Homo sapiens: one gene and its partners. The protein of the gene in region 3 purifies or fractionates together with the protein of the main gene of each other region. This does not show direct contact. Each region holds a gene or a part of one and is shown on either strand. Other genes may lie near its edges.

The links.
Region 1: the proteins of BOP1 (region 3) and ME1 fractionate together in Homo sapiens (co-fractionation; one large-scale study listed by BioGRID). This does not show direct contact.
Region 2: the proteins of BOP1 (region 3) and ACAP1 purify together in Homo sapiens (affinity purification with mass spectrometry, with the first as the bait; one study listed by BioGRID). This does not show direct contact.
Region 4: the proteins of BOP1 (region 3) and SYT10 purify together in Homo sapiens (affinity purification with mass spectrometry, with the first as the bait; one study listed by BioGRID). This does not show direct contact.

Annotation. Positions count from the first base shown.
Region 1 is NC_000006.12:83,210,430-83,215,146, forward strand, and holds part of ME1 (NADP-dependent malic enzyme), read right to left. Parts: intron 1,666-4,717; coding exon 1,495-1,665; 3' UTR 1-1,494. UniProt on the Homo sapiens protein: Catalyzes the oxidative decarboxylation of (S)-malate in the presence of NADP(+) and divalent metal ions, and decarboxylation of oxaloacetate.
Region 2 is NC_000017.11:7,345,669-7,349,609, forward strand, and holds part of ACAP1 (arf-GAP with coiled-coil, ANK repeat and PH domain-containing protein 1), read left to right. Parts: intron 1-575; coding exon 576-627; intron 628-722; coding exon 723-823; intron 824-1,139; coding exon 1,140-1,263; intron 1,264-1,362; coding exon 1,363-1,574; intron 1,575-2,253; coding exon 2,254-2,323; intron 2,324-2,458; coding exon 2,459-2,553; intron 2,554-2,637; coding exon 2,638-2,807; intron 2,808-3,326; coding exon 3,327-3,499; intron 3,500-3,941. UniProt on the Homo sapiens protein: GTPase-activating protein (GAP) for ADP ribosylation factor 6 (ARF6) required for clathrin-dependent export of proteins from recycling endosomes to trans-Golgi network and cell surface.
Region 3 is NC_000008.11:144,260,334-144,264,497, forward strand, and holds the end of BOP1 (ribosome biogenesis protein BOP1), read right to left. Parts: intron 4,105-4,164; coding exon 3,892-4,104; intron 3,810-3,891; coding exon 3,648-3,809; intron 3,579-3,647; coding exon 3,498-3,578; intron 3,429-3,497; coding exon 3,359-3,428; intron 3,278-3,358; coding exon 3,145-3,277; intron 3,069-3,144; coding exon 2,888-3,068; intron 2,809-2,887; coding exon 2,520-2,808; intron 2,405-2,519; exon of another isoform or gene 2,340-2,404; coding exon 2,255-2,339; intron 2,171-2,254; coding exon 2,063-2,170; intron 1,985-2,062; coding exon 1,831-1,984; 3' UTR 1,712-1,830; downstream 1-1,711. Other genes in the region: MROH1 (maestro heat-like repeat-containing protein family member 1), read left to right, coding at 1-41, 150-211, 344-499, 582-708, 781-883, 951-1,016, 1,322-1,407. UniProt on the Homo sapiens protein: Component of the PeBoW complex, which is required for maturation of 28S and 5.8S ribosomal RNAs and formation of the 60S ribosome.
Region 4 is NC_000012.12:33,404,864-33,409,580, reverse strand, and holds part of SYT10 (synaptotagmin-10), read left to right. Parts: intron 1-1,262; exon of another isoform or gene 1,263-1,342; intron 1,343-2,224; coding exon 2,225-2,792; intron 2,793-4,717. UniProt on the Homo sapiens protein: Ca(2+) sensor specifically required for the Ca(2+)-dependent exocytosis of secretory vesicles containing IGF1 in neurons of the olfactory bulb. Exocytosis of IGF1 is required for sensory perception of smell.

The DNA of each region.
Region 1 (4,717 bases), on a different chromosome or scaffold from region 3:
ACCTTTTCTATGCTTTAATAAATCTTTTGCATAGGTAAACACATTTAGTCAGAGCTATAAGACAACATAGAAACAGACAAGAAATACACAGACATTCTGATTCTTCTCCAAATAACTATTTTGAGGAAACTCTTGACTATATGTTACCTTTAGAAATACCTTAACCTCTTCTGCTCATACCTAAAACAATTTGTGTAACCTTCAACTTTCAATAAAATCATTTTATAGTATAATTTATCTTGAATATCTTATACTCCTTAAAGCATTACTTCAAAAACAAAATTCTTCAAATAATTCTATAAATAAGTAGCAAATGTTATTGCACCTTAGCTTTATAATTTAAAATTTTTTCCATTACTTCAAACATTAGTTTCTAAAGTAAATTAATACAGTCTGGGCATATAACTACTCTTTCTCATAGAATGGTATTAGTCATCAAGATATTTTAATCTTATGTAAGGACATTTCTGATACTGGGAACTTAATTATAATACTTTCTCCAAATTCAGGCAAAAGCAAGATGATTATAACACAGTTAGCTCTTCATTACCTGAGTTAATTAAGAGGCCATTCTGGCAGGTAACTCCAGTAGGAACCTAACTTGTTGTCTTAAAGATCCTGAGATCTTTAAGAGGTCAGTTCCTCAGGCAGCCCTTTCTCAAGGATCTTAACTATATACTCTCCTTTCAGACCTTCTCACTGCTCAGGCTGTGCTGAACTGAAGGTGCCAACCTCGGGACAGGGGCCACAGTCCACAAAATCCCTGTAGCAACAGTATGGTAGCTGAAGGATGGGATGTTTGATCAAGGGGGAAAAAAGGTGATTTCAGGTGGGATTTCTGACTCAGGATCAAGGTAATAAGAGCTTTACTCTATGAGATGTAACAATGACAAAAGAATATTAAAATCTAAGGCTGCACAAGGCGCTGTAAACAGCAGTGATCTTTCTCTTAGAACTGTTAGAATTCCGTTGCACAAAAGAACATATATGATCTAGGACTGGAATAAAAATACTTGAGAAGTTATCTTTCTCTAGGCAACAAAGTAGTGTTATTTCTGCTTAGCAAAAGTTCACCTACGCCTAGATTCATTTCTAGCTTTTTTTTTTTGAAAAGTAGATTTTAACAAAATGGTCAACAAAATAATTATGAGTTTTAATGTTGGTTATGTCAATTTATTAGTAATTTTGGTCTTCCCATTAGTGTCCTGTATAAAAATGATGAGTTTCTCCGTAGTACGTACAACAGCTTTTAAAGAGAACGTAGGCAGAATAATTCAGACAGAAACCATAAATAACCAGAAGGCAAAGTGAAGCAAAATTGTCTCATGTGATGTTTATCCCAATTTATATCGATATTCTTCTATCAATTTTTAGACTGTTAAAGTAAAATCTTAATCTAAGTGTCTTATGAATCATTATAAAAGATTCCAACCTTTAAAAATTATGAAAGGTTTAAAGACCTCATTAATAGAGTTAGAAATGTTTGCTATTATCCTACTGGTCAACTTTGGTCTGTATTTTCTGCACCTCTTCAGGCCAAGAATAACAATCAGGTAGAATCTGGTCATAATCAGTACTATACATCTGGGAGCGGACAAATGCTTCTTTGTTTTGCGGTTCAGGATAAACTGTGGCTGTCTTTTCTTGGTATGCATCTTTCACAATCTAGATATAAGAAAAGAATATTAATTATTTTAATAAATAGAGGTAATCATGAGCCCATGTGAGTGGAAGTTTTTATCCATTTCAAAAACACTGTATCCTATGTTTGCAAAAACATTAAGTGTATTATAATAAAAGCACATATAAGCAATGAAGATATAAAATGAAAATGCAATTATAAATCATATAGTGAGAGAGAAAAATGACATCAGCAACTAAGGAAAGTGTGACCAGGTGAGACTGATTCAAGTACTATCACATCTGGATTTCTCAGAGAAGCCAGTGTTCAAAGTCTTGACATGACCTGACTGACAATTAACTTGAAATAAATACCTAAATAGTCCTGCTAAACTTGAACCTTGAATTTTCAAGAATCCCTATTCTCACCACAGCCTCCTACAAAATCTCTTCCTGTACCCCAGGGTCTCCTGATCTTGCTCAGCTAATCATCTAGACACCACAGTCAGGATGAGCACTCTTTGCCAGCGTCACAGATTCTCTGGTCATCACGCCCTGTGTTTCATGCATAATTCTAGTCCCTCGTCTGGGGACCCCTCAGAGCTGGCTTTCTCCTTTTGTGGCTGTGCATCCTAGAACGATGCAGTAAACTTTCTGTGGTGCTATATTTTTTTTCTAGTCTGCACATTATACTTTTTTCTCTCTTTACTTAAAACTTCCTCTTGTGGTTCCCAAAAAGCAATTCCAAACCTTCCCCCATCTTCAAGCTTCCATTTGACTCTCATCACTCACTGGAGAATCACATCATCATATCACATCATGGGAGAAAATTTCAACTACTCAGAGAAAATGACCTTAATTTCCCTTTTGACCAACTCAGACTATCTCCTCAGTGTCTTCATACATCTTCTCTTTCCCTACTTTCTTTAAATGGATTCTCTTCATCAAAATTAATCACTTCATATATACTATTTAATTCACACCAGTTTTTTTTTTTTTTTGAGATGGAGTCTTACTCTGTCACCCAGGTTGGAGTGCAGTGGCACGATCTCAGCTCACTGCAACCTCTGCCTCCTGGGTTCAAGCGATTCTCTGGCTGGCACAGTGGCTCATGCCTGTAATCCCAGCACTTTGGGAGGCCGAGGCAGGTGGATCACCTGAGGTCAGGAGTTCAAGACCAGCCTGACCAACATGGAGAAACCCCATCTCTACTAAAAATACAAAATTAGCCGGGTGTGGTGGTGCATGCCTGTAACCCTAGCTACTCGGGAGGCTGAGGCAAGAGAATCACTTGAACCCGGGAGGCAGAGGTTGCAGTGAGCCGAGATCACACCATTGTACTCTAGCCTGGGCAACAAGAGCAAAACTCCATCTCAAAAACGAAACAAAACAAAACAAAAAACAACAACAACAAAAAAACAAGCGATTCTCCTGCCTCAGCCTCCCAAGGGTTAACAGGCTCCTGCCACCACACCCGGCTAATTTCTGTACTTTTTTAGAAGAGAAGGGGTTTCGCCATGTTGGCCAGTCTGGTCTCAAACTCCTGACCTGAGGTGATCCACCTGCCTTGGCCTCCCGAAGTGCTGGGATTACAGGTGTGAGCCACCGTGCCCAGCCGAATTCACATCAGTTCTTAAAACAATATTTATATGACTGACTTATTTTGATAAGTCTGATTTCAAAGAATATCAGAATGATTATCTCATCTCAATGTAAAACTATGCATTTATGAACAATTAAGGTTATGAATACTGTGCTGTATTATGAAATGTCTATGAAAAAGCAGGAAACAATATGTATATTTCATAATTATAATAATGTTAGAAAATAAACAAACGAAAGACTCAAAACAAACACAGGAAAAAAAATAATACTTATATTAGAAAAATAGGATATTGGTTATTTTCCTTTTCTCTATTTGTTTTCCAAAGTGCCCATAATATGGTAGTATTACTTTTTAAACAGATTTATTGAGATATAATTCACACAAAATTCAAGCATTTTAAGTGTACAACTAAATTATTTTTGTAAATTTACTGAGCTGTGCAACAATATTACCACATTCAGTTTTAGAATATTTCCATCACCCCAAAAAGATCCCTCATGCCTACTTAAGATGGCTATGTTAATTTTATAATAAAACACATTGTTTCATTACTGACATAGACTATGTGGAAATTCATCTCCTCTTTCTGCTCCCAGTTATACCATAGAAATAATCCCTTCTCCCAATGAAATCTTCACTCTCTCTGTCCTGTCAATGCCAAACTCTCTGACAGAGTGGCTTATATTTTATTGCTTTCCTAATTCTCTGCCTTCTGAACCTCCTGTACATCTTGAAATTTCTTTTGTAAAAGTCTCTGATAACTTGTTAAGTACCAAATAAAAGTCTGCATCTGTTTTTCTCTCCAGGATTTGGCTGTGTTGGTCACAATTTCCACTCCCATTCTGAAATTGTCTCTTTCCTAATTATTGACATGCTGCTCAGTTTGGAGTCTCTTAAAATCCTGACCACTTCTCTTCTTAACTGGCATCTTTCTTCTGTCTTCTAGACAGAATAATAAACTATATTCTATTCTCATTTTTATTTCCTTTCTATACTTGCTTTCTTGGCAACCTCACCCACTCCTAGATATTCACCAGTTACCACATGCAGAAGATGCCCAGGTCTTTTATCTAGCCTCTCTTTAAGTTTCAGTCATTTCTATCTACTTGATAAAATGGTACATTTGAATGTGCCATTGATACCTCAAACTTGCAGTCCACTTACATGATCTCCCTCTCTGAAGTTGGTTCTTTGTTCTAGTTTCTCAATTTCTGTGTATGCACTCTGTATTCTTCCATTATTCTAGGTGTGATATCTGAATCTTTTGGCACTCCCCTGCTGTCCCCTGCTTTTTTTCCCCTCTAATCATAAGCTAACTCTTTTTCATTTAAATCTCCAAAATGAACTTAAAATGATAATATGCTATTCAGTATATTAATAGTTTAAACTACTTAAAAACTAGCAGATACATATTAGTAGAATATATGAACATACTTTTTCATAGATAACCAAGCAGATTATTATGTAAAGGTTTTTAGAGAATTACTTCTT
Region 2 (3,941 bases), on a different chromosome or scaffold from region 3:
TTTTGATGGAGCCTCGCTATGTTGCGCAGGCTGCAGCACAGTGGTGCGATCTCAGCTCACTGCAACCTCAGCTTCCTGGGTTCAAGCGATTCTCCTGCCTCAGCCTCCCAAGTAGGTGGGATTATAGCCGCCTGCCACCACGCCTGGCTAATTTTTGTATTTTTAGTAGAGACGGAGTTTCACCATATTGGTCAGGGTGGTCTCAAACTCCTGACCTCGGGTGATCCACCACCCCCATCAGCCTCCCAAAGTGCTGGGATTACAGGTGTGAGCCCAGCCTAAATAGTATTTTTTAAATTGTAGCAATAGACATTTTATTAGAAAAAGAATTTTACTGCCATCTGCTGGAAAGTTGTCTTCATAACTATATGAAATCTGGGTTGTCCAAGATAGGAATAGCATCCTTTAGATGTTCCAATCTGCACAATTGTCCACCCTTCTCTGGAATGTCTCGTGGAACAGTCAGCCCAGGTGTCTGTCCTCTCAGTAAGATCCTCATGGGCAAAAAGCACAGCCTCTCTTCCGTCCCTCATCCTAAAGCTGCCTATGTCTGTAATGATTTCCTTCTCTTACAGACGCTGGTTCACCATTCAGAGCAACCAACTGGTTTACCAGAAGAAGTACAAGGTGAGTGGACCTGGGTCCTGGATGCCTGGGCCCCAGGGAGACTCAGCTCTTGCCTGCAGCTGGACATCTGGCCCCTTATCACCTTATCCTGCCAGGACCCTGTGACTGTGGTGGTGGATGACCTTCGTCTCTGCACAGTGAAACTCTGCCCTGACTCAGAAAGGCGGTTCTGCTTTGAGGTGGTGTCCACCAGCAAGTGAGTGCAATCCCCAGGGGTGATACTCTAATATATCTAAACAACTGCCAATCTGAAAGGCAGGGCCCACCACAATGGAGGCCCCCCATGCAGCTCCAGACTTTAATTTAATTCTTTGGCGGCTGGACTGGGGGGCCATTGTGGAAGAGGGTACAGGGTGATGGGGGATATTTAGGAGAATATTACCAACTGGTACAGAAGTCTTTCAATGCAACTGGAACTGGTTGAATACTGGCTGAATGTCAGTCTGCCCATGCTGCCACTTTGCTTCCCAGGCCTCAGACCCCTCTGCCATCTCCCTCACCCTCCTACCTAGGTCCTGCCTCCTCCAGGCTGACTCAGAGCGCCTCCTGCAGCTGTGGGTCAGTGCTGTGCAGAGCAGCATTGCTTCTGCCTTCAGTCAGGCTCGCCTTGATGACAGCCCCCGGGGTCCAGGCCAGGTACCTTAACCTGGGGGTGCGGAGCCAGGCTGCCTGTGGAGATGGGGCACCCTTTACCCTAGGCCCCTTGGCCACCCTTTCTTCCCCTCTCTCCCCCAGGGCTCAGGACACCTGGCCATAGGCTCTGCTGCCACCCTGGGCTCTGGTGGAATGGCCAGGGGAAGGGAGCCTGGGGGAGTCGGGCACGTGGTGGCCCAGGTCCAGAGTGTGGATGGCAATGCCCAGTGCTGCGACTGCCGGGAGCCAGCCCCGGAGTGGGCCAGCATCAACCTTGGTGTCACCCTCTGCATTCAGTGTTCCGGCATCCACAGGTTACTCCACAAGGCCCATGCGGGAGCCCCACTCCTTCGGGCCACAGTGCGGCTCCAATACAGAGCGCATCACACCGGCCCCTCTTCCTTCCCTGTCCTGGCTTCCTCTCTTAGCTTCTGGCTTTGTCACTGGGTACCAGGCCTGGGCCCAAGCCTCTGGGGTGCCAGTTGGACCCAGGCGGGCCTAGCCCCTCTGTGTCCTAGTCTGGCCAGAATTGGGGGATACCCAGAATTTGTTGGCTTGGTTGGAAGAAGTGTGGGGTCAAGGCTGCTGAGGGTGGGGGAGCCAGTGAAGACTAGGCAGAGAAACGGTCATGAGGCCTTAGCAAGTATCTAAGGCCCTCGCCCCCCACCTCAGTGTGGTGGAAGGGAGGTGACATGGGAGAGGTTGTCCAGGCCAAAGTGTCACAAGTGTCACTAGAGAAGGGAGGTGGCTGGAGTGATGAGGGCCTTGAAATGAAACCTAAGGAAGAAGGAATGGTGACGAGGCAGAGTCCTGCCAGGGCCAGGTCAAGGCTACATGGCGGTTACATGGCCGCAGCTGCCCTGCCTCCTGGGCCAGCACCTCTGCACGGGCCCCCATGCCAGCCTTGCCTCCCAGTGTCTTCAGGAGCAGCAGCAGCTCCCCAGGCCACTGCCCCCCTGCACAGGGCCTGACCCTCCCCCTCTGGCCCTCCAGGAGCCTTGGTGTTCACTTCTCCAAAGTCCGGTCTCTGACCCTTGACTCATGGGAGCCAGAACTAGTGAAGGTAACTTAGCGTATTGTGAAGATTGGGGGCAAGAACTTGGGGTGGGGCAAGGACATGGCGGTGCAGGGGCGTGATCCCTGAGGAGTCACTCACCCCCACCTTCCCTGTCTCTGCCTCTGCCTGGGCCTCCTGAAGCTCATGTGTGAGCTGGGAAATGTCATCATCAACCAGATCTATGAGGCCCGCGTGGAGGCCATGGCAGTGAAGAAACCAGGGCCCAGCTGCTCCCGGTGAGCTTGGGGTTTAGCCTCCCAGGGGAATGGGGGACCCCTGGAGCAGAAGAGGGAAGACTGCGTGCTTCTCCCCTCCCACAGGCAGGAGAAGGAGGCCTGGATTCACGCTAAATACGTGGAGAAGAAGTTCCTGACCAAGCTGCCTGAGATTCGAGGGCGAAGAGGTGGCCGGGGGCGCCCAAGGGGGCAGCCTCCTGTGCCCCCAAAGCCTTCCATCAGGCCCCGGCCAGGGAGCTTGAGATCCAAGCCAGGTATAGGGTTGGTTGGGCATTCATTGAGCATCTGCTGTGTGCTCGGCATCGTGCCAGGTAGCGCCGGGAGGCACAGAGTGTGAAGCCCAGGCCTTCCGCTGGACAATGTCGGAGGGACCGGACTGCCGTTTCAGGGGTTACGGTGGAGTGTGACATTAAGAATGAGAAGGAATGTGGGGCTGGGCGTGGGCAGGGAGGGTAAGGGGTGCCAACAGCACAAGAAAAGGAGAGAGAGAGGGGGTGGGTTTGGCTGGAGCGTCAGGGGTTGAGAGCTGAGGCCAAGTGTGGTTGGACCAGATGAGGTGATGATGCCGTCTCTCCCCCACACCCTAGGGACTCGTACACATGCATACGCATACTTACACATACCCACACTTGCATCACTCTATTCCCTCCACAGTCCCAAGCTCCCCATCATTTAGAAGAGACCTGTCCCATTATAGCATTGGGACACTGCTGAGGGTTTTCTTCCCAGACTCGGAGCTGCTTCCCCCTAACAGAACCAAATCCCCCGAACAGAGCCCCCCTCTGAGGACCTGGGAAGCCTGCACCCTGGGGCCCTACTGTTTCGAGCGTCTGGGCATCCTCCATCTCTTCCCACCATGGCTGATGCCCTTGCCCATGGAGCTGATGTCAACTGGGTCAATGGGGGCCAAGATAATGCCACACCGCTGATCCAGGCCACAGCTGCTGTAAGAGCCCTGCTGACCTCTCCACCCCACCCTAGGGCTCTGACACCTACTCCTGACTCTGGGCCCTGCCCTTACCTCCTTTCCCCACCACCTGTTCCCTAGGGCTTCCACCCATAGGGAGAGATCAACAATAGAGACTGGTTGCTAAGAGTGTGTGATTTGGAGGCAGAGAACCTGAGTTTGAACCCAGGCTCTCACCTCTTACAGGAGACTTTTTTTTTTTTTTTTGAGACAGTCTCGCTCTGTCCCCCAGGCTGGAGTGCAATGGTGCGATCTCGGCTCACTGCAAGCTCCGCCTCCCGGGTTCACACCATTCTCCTGCCTCAGCTGCCTGAGTAGCTGGGACTACAGGCGCCAGCCAGCATGCCCGGCTAATTTTTTGTATTGTTAGTAGAGATAGGGTTTCACCGTGTTAGCCAGGATGGTCTGGATCTCCTGACCT
Region 3 (4,164 bases):
TGCTGCACGTGGCCATCCGCATCCGGCCTTTCTTCGACAGTGTAGGCTGGTTGGGGCAGGGGGAGGGAAGAGGGCCCCAGCCCTTCCTGCCTCTTACTCTGAGCTTTAGCCCCAGCCCCACCCTCCTCCCTGTCTCCCACCTCGGCTAGGTGACCGTGGAGAGCGCGGACCTGCAGGGCTGCTGCTTTGCTGGGCCTGGCAGCCCCCACCCGTAAGGCCCCCACCCGTCGGGGTGTTTCCTGGCCCGGGTCAGGCAAGGGCACCCATCAATGGCAGGGGGCTAGGCAGGCAGGCCTGCAGGGGCACAGCCTGTGAGGAGACGTATGCTGCATGTCCTTCCCAGGAGAAGATGGAGTTCCGGACGGCATCTATCCGCCTCTTTGGGCACCTTAACAAGGTCTGCCACGGAGACTGTGAGGACGTCTTCCTGGACCAGGTGGTGGGCGGGCTGGCGCCCCTGCTGCTGCACCTGCAGGACCCTCAGGCCACCGTGGCCAGCGTGAGTAGCCAGGGGGTGAGTGGGATGGGGTGGGTGGCCTCAACTGGACTTGGCCCCAGTGCCGCATCCCTTAGGCCTGCAGGTTTGCCCTGCGCATGTGTGGCCCCAATCTGGCATGTGAGGAGCTCTCAGCTGCTTTCCAGAAACACCTGCAGGAGGGCCGAGCCCTGCACTTCGGGGAGTTCCTCAACACCACCTGCAAGCACCTGGTGAGGGGTGGGGCCAGGCGGGGCGTGGTGGGTGGGGCGGGGCCAGGCGGCACTGACCAGGCCTCTCCCCAGATGCACCATTTCCCAGACCTGCTGGGCCGTCTCCTGACCACCTGCCTGTTCTACTTCAAGAGCAGCTGGGAGAACGTCCGAGCTGCTGCACCCCTGTTCACCGGTAAGCACCACCCCCTGCCCCACCCCCACGCCGCCCGGCAGCCCCGCCTGATGCCCCCACTTCACAGGGTTCCTGGTGCTGCACTCGGAGCCCAGGCAGCAGCCGCAGGTGGACCTGGACCAGCTCATTGCGGGTGAGCACCCCTCCACGGGGCCCCTCCGCTGGGCCCTGCTGACCCTGTAGGCACCCGCAGGGACTAAGTGATTTTCCTGGATTTCAGGACTTTTTCCCTGTCACTGGTGACCTCATCGTCTCTAGTAATTCACGGAAACTTCTTAACTGTTCCAAAAGAGCTTAAAAAACACTAAAAAAGGAAAAACGATCTTTCCGTTGGCTCCTGAGCCTCCCAGCAGAGGCTGTCAGGAGAGCGTGGCCCACGCGCAGGCATGGGCATGCCGAGGTCACAGCCCGCAGGCAGCCCCCCTCCTCTACCCCCAGCGCTCCAGATCCTGCTGAAGGACCCGGCCCCCGAGGTGCGGACGAGGGCTGCTGAGGCCCTGGGCCGCCTGGTGAAGCTCGCCTAAGGCTCCGGCCAGCACCCCCAGCGAGGAGTATGCACCCAGACCTGTGCCTGAGCTCCAAGACAGGGCCTCCTGAGGACCACAGCCTGGGCACACGACTGGAGGGGCCTGGCCCCAGAACAGGCACTGCTGGGGACCAAACCCAAGCCCTTCAGTGAGGGATGTGCCCAATAAACTCATCTGCTCCCAGCGAGTGACTGACAGGGTGCGATGCTGAGCCTCTTAGGGGATGGGCCAGAGGGTGCCCTGGACTGGCTGTGTTGTCCCCACTGTTTTTGCAAAATTGAGTGAGGGGAAGGCTCGGCGCTGTGGTGGGGGCGGCTTTGTTGGCAACCCCAATTCAAGAAGGTGGGAGCACCAGGCAGCACAGGGTAAAGGCTCTGTTGACTTCAGCACGACCACCCCAGCCCCAGGCAGGCAGAACAGCTAGGTGAAGAGGCGGACAGTCCCGTCTGCCCCCGAGGAGAAGACCCACGGCTGGGTGGGGTGGAAGATGACGTCCAGCACTCCCAGATCTCGGGTCAGCACGTGTCCCTTCAGCACCTTGACGGGCACCAGCAAGGGGTTCTGCAGAAGGTCACTGTGGGGACGAGGAGGGCTCAGGGCACGGCCAGACACCACTGCCCTGGGGAGGGGGCCAGGCAGGGTCAGCACTCACTTGTACACCATGCCATGGCAGACGATGACACTGCCGTCGTCCGAGCCTGACGCAAAGAGTGGGTACCGCGGGTGGAAGGCCACAGCCCGCAGAGCCTTCTTGTGGTGTCTGGGGGGAGGGAACCAGGTTGAAGGCAGGCTCGGGCTGAAGGGAGGGGCTCTGCTGGCCGCCTCCACCCCCAGCTTTCCTCACCTCAGCATCCTGTATGGCTTGGTGGAAAGATCCAGGTCAAACCACACCAGCTTGCTATCGTAGCTCCCACAGATGACGTTGTCACCTAGGGCCAAAGGCTGTGATGCAGGTGTTCCCGCTCTCACCTGCAGGGTGCACTGCCCTGCCCGTCACCTACACCCCTCACCTGCAGGGTGCACTGCCCCTACCCCCACCCCTCACCTGCAGGGTACACCGCCCCCCCCCCCACCCCTCACCTGCAGGGTGCACCGCCCCCACCCCTCACCTGCAGGGTGCACCGCCAGGCTGGACACCCACTTGCAGTTGGGCATCAGCTTCTTGGTGAGCTCCTGGCGCAGCAGGTGGTAGAGGCGGACGCTGCGCTGGGACGCCACCAACAGGAAGGGCCGGGCAGGGTGGAAGGCCACTCGCTGCACCTGTCCGTGGCTGCGGCGGAACGGACTCTGGCTGCGGCGACGGCTCAGCTGGTGAATCAGCACCTGGGTGTGGCCTTGGGTGGCCAGCACCACGGCCAGGTAGTCCCCACGCCCGTGCCAGGTCACCTGCGTCACTGGCTGCAGGAGAGCAAGGCTGGCTGAGTGGCTGAGCCGGGCCCCTCCCGCTGCAGCCTCACCCCCAAGGCGCCCCACGTACCTTCCCGTGGCAGATGCGCAGCCGCAGGCCCACTTGGCGCTCCTCCTCTGAGGCCTCCAGCCAGCGGGCCGGCTGCAAGGGGGGCTCCTCAGGCGGGACGAAGGCGCTCAACAGCTGATCTGTGCTGCCCGCCACCAGCCGGTCCCCCAGAGCTGGGTTCAGCAGCAGCACCGAGTCCTCCCTGTGAGCCAGGCCCAGACACGGCCCCTAAGCACAGTGCCACCCCTGGCTCCCCAGCCCCCAGGGCCTCCACTTACACGGCTGCAGCCACCAGGCAGACAGCGGGGCTGGGGTTCCAGGCCACACTCTTCACCACGCCCCCCACGGGAACAGTCCTCACACAGCGGGCAGTGGCCACCTCCCAGAGCCGCAGGGAGCCGTCGTCAGAGCCTGGATGCGGCAGAGACAGCTCTCAACACCTGGCCATCCCACCTGCCCCCCAGCTCAAGGCTGCCCCCAGCTCGGACCCACCTGAAACCAGCCACTGGCCCCCAGGAGAGACACTGAGGCACCGGACAAGGTCACTGTGGCCCCTGTAGACCTGAGGAGGCGGCGGCAGTGAGGAGTCAGACTGGGAGGGTGCAACCCCAGCCCCCTAGTCTCCACTTACCAGGGCCTGGCACGTGGGGAAGGGCTGCAGGTCCCTCGGCCGAGGCAGCTTGGGGATGAGGTCCTCAGGGTCTACATTCACCTGGGGCAGGAGAGCGCCAGGTCAGCCTTGCCCCCTGTGCCACCCCCCTGGTGTGCCACCCCCACACACCCTCATCTTGCGCTGCCGTGGGCACAGGTACAGGTCAAGGCAGCGCTCGAAGCGTTCCTGGATGAAGCGTCCGTAGGCAGGCACGGCCCGCAGGCTCGGGAACTTGCGTGGCAAAAAGCTCAGCTTCCTCTCGCCTGGCTCCTGCTGTTCCCACGCCAAGCGCTGTGGAGACCAAGACACAGGGGTGGGGAGGGTCACAGGGAAGCATGGGGACAGGGTCCCGGCCCCCAGGATGCAGGCCCACCTCCTCCTCGCTGAGCAGGTATTCAGGGGGTGGGTTGTACGACTCGGCGTGGCCTGGCAGGGCCAGCTTGGGAGCAGGTACGTGCATCTTGTGGCGCCCGAGCACGGCGTTGGGGTCCTCCTGGGCCCACAGGTCATAGAAGCTGGGGGTGGGGTCTCGGGGCCGGCGAGGCTGGATCCAGCCCATCTTGATGGCGTGCACCATGCGAGAGACCTGCATAGACAGCCGGGTCAGGACGGGCAGTGCGGGGCGGTCAGCCCAGGCCAAGCCCCA
Region 4 (4,717 bases), on a different chromosome or scaffold from region 3:
GATCACGCCACTGCACTCCAGCCTGGGCGGCAGAGTGAGACTCCGTCTCAAAAAAAAAAAAAGAAAAGAAATCAATGTTCTCACGCCTGTAATCCCAGCACTTTGGGAGGTGGAGGTGGGCAAATCACTTAAGGTCAGGAGTTTGAGACCAGCCTGGCCAACATGGTGAAACCCCATCTCTACCAAAAATACAAAAATTAGCCAGGTGCGGTGGTGGGAGCCTCTAATCTCAGCTACTTGGGAGCCTGAGGCAGGAGAATCGCCTCAACCTGGGAGGTTGAGGTTGCAGTAAGCCAAGATTGTGTCACTGCACTCCAGCCTGGGTGACAGAGTGAGAACCCATTTCGAAAAAAAAGAAATCGAGCTTCATGTGTGCATCAGTGAATCAAATATTAATCATGCAATGTCATCTATATTACTTAGTGCTGTAACAGGTGTAGACCTGCTGCAATAGACAACAGAAGTGAATAAAGTATTTTGAAATGAGTGTTCTGAGGGTGCACTGACTGGGTATTAAGTATAAGACAGAGCTGGAAGGAAAAAAAAAAGCCAGCTGAAGGTGACTAGAGAAAGCAAAATATATGGAGATAAGGATCTGGACTCCACAGCAATGGAAAAGGAGTGGAATGAACAACTATATGAGATGTTTCAAAGGAAAAGCAACAGGATTTAGAAAACTGAGTAAATCCTATGGGTAAAGGGAGAATGATTCAAAGCATACTTCATTCTTGGAAGCATGAGTGACTGATAAAAAATATTAGTGCTATTGTCAGAGATTGTGGGATAAAGAACCGATTTGCAAGCAAAAGGGAGAAAATGATGAGTTTGGTTGCATTTGGGGAGAAATGAAGACATCTGTTTAGAAATCTTCCTTAGAAATTTAGAGATACGGGACTAGAAGTTTATGTAGCTGGGATTTATCTGAGAAACCATCAGATTCAAGACAATAATTATAGTCCAAGAACTGATGATTAGTCTGATGAACAGACTGACAAGAAATATAACAAAAGACGTGGGACTAAGCTTTGAGGAGATGGGTAGTTTGGCACAGTTCGTGCCAGAAAGCATGGAGTAAGTATAAAAGCAGCAGATCTTTAATGCAAGTCACATGTAGAAGACATTAGTAAGCTTATATATTTAATATTCTGGAAATGTTGACTAGATGAGTAGTAATAGTGACTATAGGAAATTCAGTCTGAATTTTTAAAAACTTGTTTTGTTGGGCTCAAATTCTAAAATTCTACGTTTGTTTTTATCCTTAGAGTTTCTGAAGACCACAGCATGTTGAAAAAAAGAAAATGTACTCATTTTTGGCTGCCACAACTATATATTCTTTTTAAAAGTAAATATGTATTTAGTTAGATTAAGAATTAGAAACAACTCATTATAAGAAAATGTGGACCTATAACATGTTTTTAATTTTAATACTATAGTCACTAAAATGTGAAATTCATGAGACTCAAATATCCAGGTGAAAAGAAACCAGCCATCTGAATGATTTTGTCTGTATAATACTTACATCTAGATAGACCCAGATGACTGATAACATTCACAATTTTCTGTGGAATATTGAATTTTTTTGCTAATCATGTTTCTTTAGAATTGTTTTTAATTATGTGCTTATGATTGAGAGTACAAAATTTCAAAAGCATATGAAAATTAACATTGGCCAGCCACGTGTTGTGGCTCACTTGTGTTATCTCGGCACTTTGGGAGACTGAGGTGAGAGGATTGCGTGAGCCCAGAAGTTCAAGACCAGCCTGGGCAACATAGCAAGACTCTGTCTCTACAAAAAATTTAAAAATTAACTGGGCAGGTGTGGTGGCACATGCCTGTAGTCCCAGCTACTCAGGAGGCGGAGGCCAGAGGATGGCTTGAGCTCAGGAGTTTTAAGCTACAGTGAGCTATAATAGCACTACCGTACTCCAGCTAGGGTGACAGAACAAGATCCTGTCTCAAAAAACAAAAAACAAAACAAAACAAACAAACAAAAAGAACATTTAAGTGTTTCAGATGTTCTGGAATTTTAGGAGACTTCTCTTTGAATATTGTACTTCTTTATTTTTTCAAAAGTACCTCTTTGATTATATGTATGTGTCTATCTATGTAGATATAGATATCTTTTCACTATTCTGGGGGTGGGGAAGAGTTTATATGTCACTGTATAACATTCTCATCAAAATGATCTCCCTCAATGATTTTGTGTATATGTGTGTGTGTTCAGCCACAGTTCCTTCCGAAGACACCTGCCGAGGCAAATGCAGGTTTCCAGTGTTGATTTTAGCATGGGCACAGAACCTGTTTTACAACGAGGAGAAACAACAACCAGCATTGGGAGGATAAAGCCAGAACTCTACAAACAGAAATCAGTTGACTCTGAGGGCAACCAAAACGAAGATGTCAAAATCTGTGGGAAACTTAACTTTACCCTCCAGTATGATTATGAAAATGAACTTCTAGTTGTTAAAATTATCAAAGCTTTAGATCTCCCTGCTAAAGACTTCACAGGAACTTCTGACCCTTATGTGAAGATGTATCTTCTTCCAGATAGGAAAAAGAAATTTCAGACCCGCGTGCACAGAAAGACTTTAAATCCTCTATTTGATGAAACTTTTCAATTTCCTGTAGCATATGATCAACTAAGCAACCGAAAACTACATTTCAGTGTGTATGATTTTGACAGATTTTCTAGACATGACATGATTGGGGAAGTGATTCTTGATAATTTGTTTGAAGTCTCTGATCTCTCCAGGGAAGCCACAGTATGGAAAGATATTCACTGTGCTACCACAGTAAGTAGTAATTCCACCAATATATTGTTTTTTATTTGACTTACAATGCTATGTGACTAATTATTACCCAAATTATCGGAATAAGCCTTGCAGAGTTATGGAATTTATGTCTAAGATCCTGCAAAGGTAGAATTTCATTTCTACTAATAATAATTCAGGCACCTAATGCTGAATATACTAGTAACCCTAGTGATTGTGTGAATAAAAAAACGTAGCTCTTATAAATTAGCAGAACTGGTAGGCTATTTCTCCTTTAAAATATTCATCTGTAATATAAATATCCTATCTGCAGCACCAAGTTTCCTCACAGTTAGTATTGACTTTCATTATTTAAGGTAATTTTGTTATTTTCATTATTTTAGAAATTATTTCACTCTTTAAGAATAATGACTTCATTATTTAAGATAATTCATCAGATCAAACCTAAAATGTACTTTGATGCTATTTGGAAAAGTCCTTGGTTTGATCTGAAACAACCCATTATTTCAGAAGCTTTCAGGGAATACACACAATTACAATATATGAAATGATCAGTGATCAAGAAGTAATCATTGTTTACATTAAAACTTTTCTTTTTCATTACAAAATACTTTTTCTGATTATAAAATAATACCAACTTTAGTACTGAAAATTTAAAAAACAGTAAAAACACATAGCATAAAATTAAAATAATCTACAGTGCTACCAATTATATTTAATATTTTGGCATATTGCTTTCCAACTTTTTGCTATGCATATTTTAAAATATTAAGACCATACTAAGTTAAATTTTTTCAAGCCAATTTTCTTTCATTCTATATTTGTTTTAGTGCATGATGTTGAAATACATGATCCATTTAACCATTTTCTTACTGTTAGACACTTAAGTTAGGGATAAATTTTGTTATATGAAAAATTATGTTCTTTTTTTGTAAATCTGTTTTTTTTTTCAAGATTATTTGTCCGGTATAGAATTATAGAAGTGGAATTAGAGAAGTGATCTCTTAAGTTAGATTGTTTTCTTTATTAGTTTTTAAATGGGGACATTTAATTTTTTACCATCAGGTTGTTTTTACATATTTACTGTCTTTTGTTTGAGTTGTATCGCAACTTACAAGTTTAAAATGTTGAAGTTTTGAACAGAGACAAGGGATTATTTAAAATATAAGCATTTTTTTATTCAAAATAGCTTGTGTTTTTCCATTTATGAATGTTTTACTAATTACAATCAGTATGTGGGATAATTATATTGTCATTGTAAATTATGTGGATAAATTAATTTAAAAATTTATACTGCCAGTTCAATATTGTATTCCAGCATTATAACATTTTTGGTTGTTGGATTTTTGTGTCATAATCTCTATTGCAATATCTATTAAGGAACAAAGAAGGAATTTTGAAAGGGGATTATATTTCAAATGCACAGTGGGGCTCTTTTGATTTCACATTTGTGTTCATTTTATTACCTATATTCCCACGGGGAAAACATGATGAATACTAATTTTTATTGTTTTTAAAAATAACACCTTCTAGAATTCTACAAATGCAGATGGCAATTAATTGTTAGATTATTTCTCTTGATTCCTCAGTCTTATTATTACTTTTTATTTATTCAACAAATATTTACCTATATATGTTTGGCATGCTCTAAGTACTAGGGTTGCAACAAACACATTTCTATAAAAAAGTAAAGTATGTTATGTACATATATTCAGGCTCAGAGGTAAATAATCTGCCAATGAAATCTAAAAAATTAGTATAATCGACTAGGAGATTGTGATTTTTTTTTTTAAACATTCATACGTTTTCCAAACTGGTTCTACTTAGAAAAAAGTAGGAGTTCCTTGTGGAAACTTTAGTTTCTCATTGCTAATAATATTTATTCATTGTTTGGTAAATATTAATAAATTACTTAAATTTATTTGCAACTCTCCCATATGCCTTGT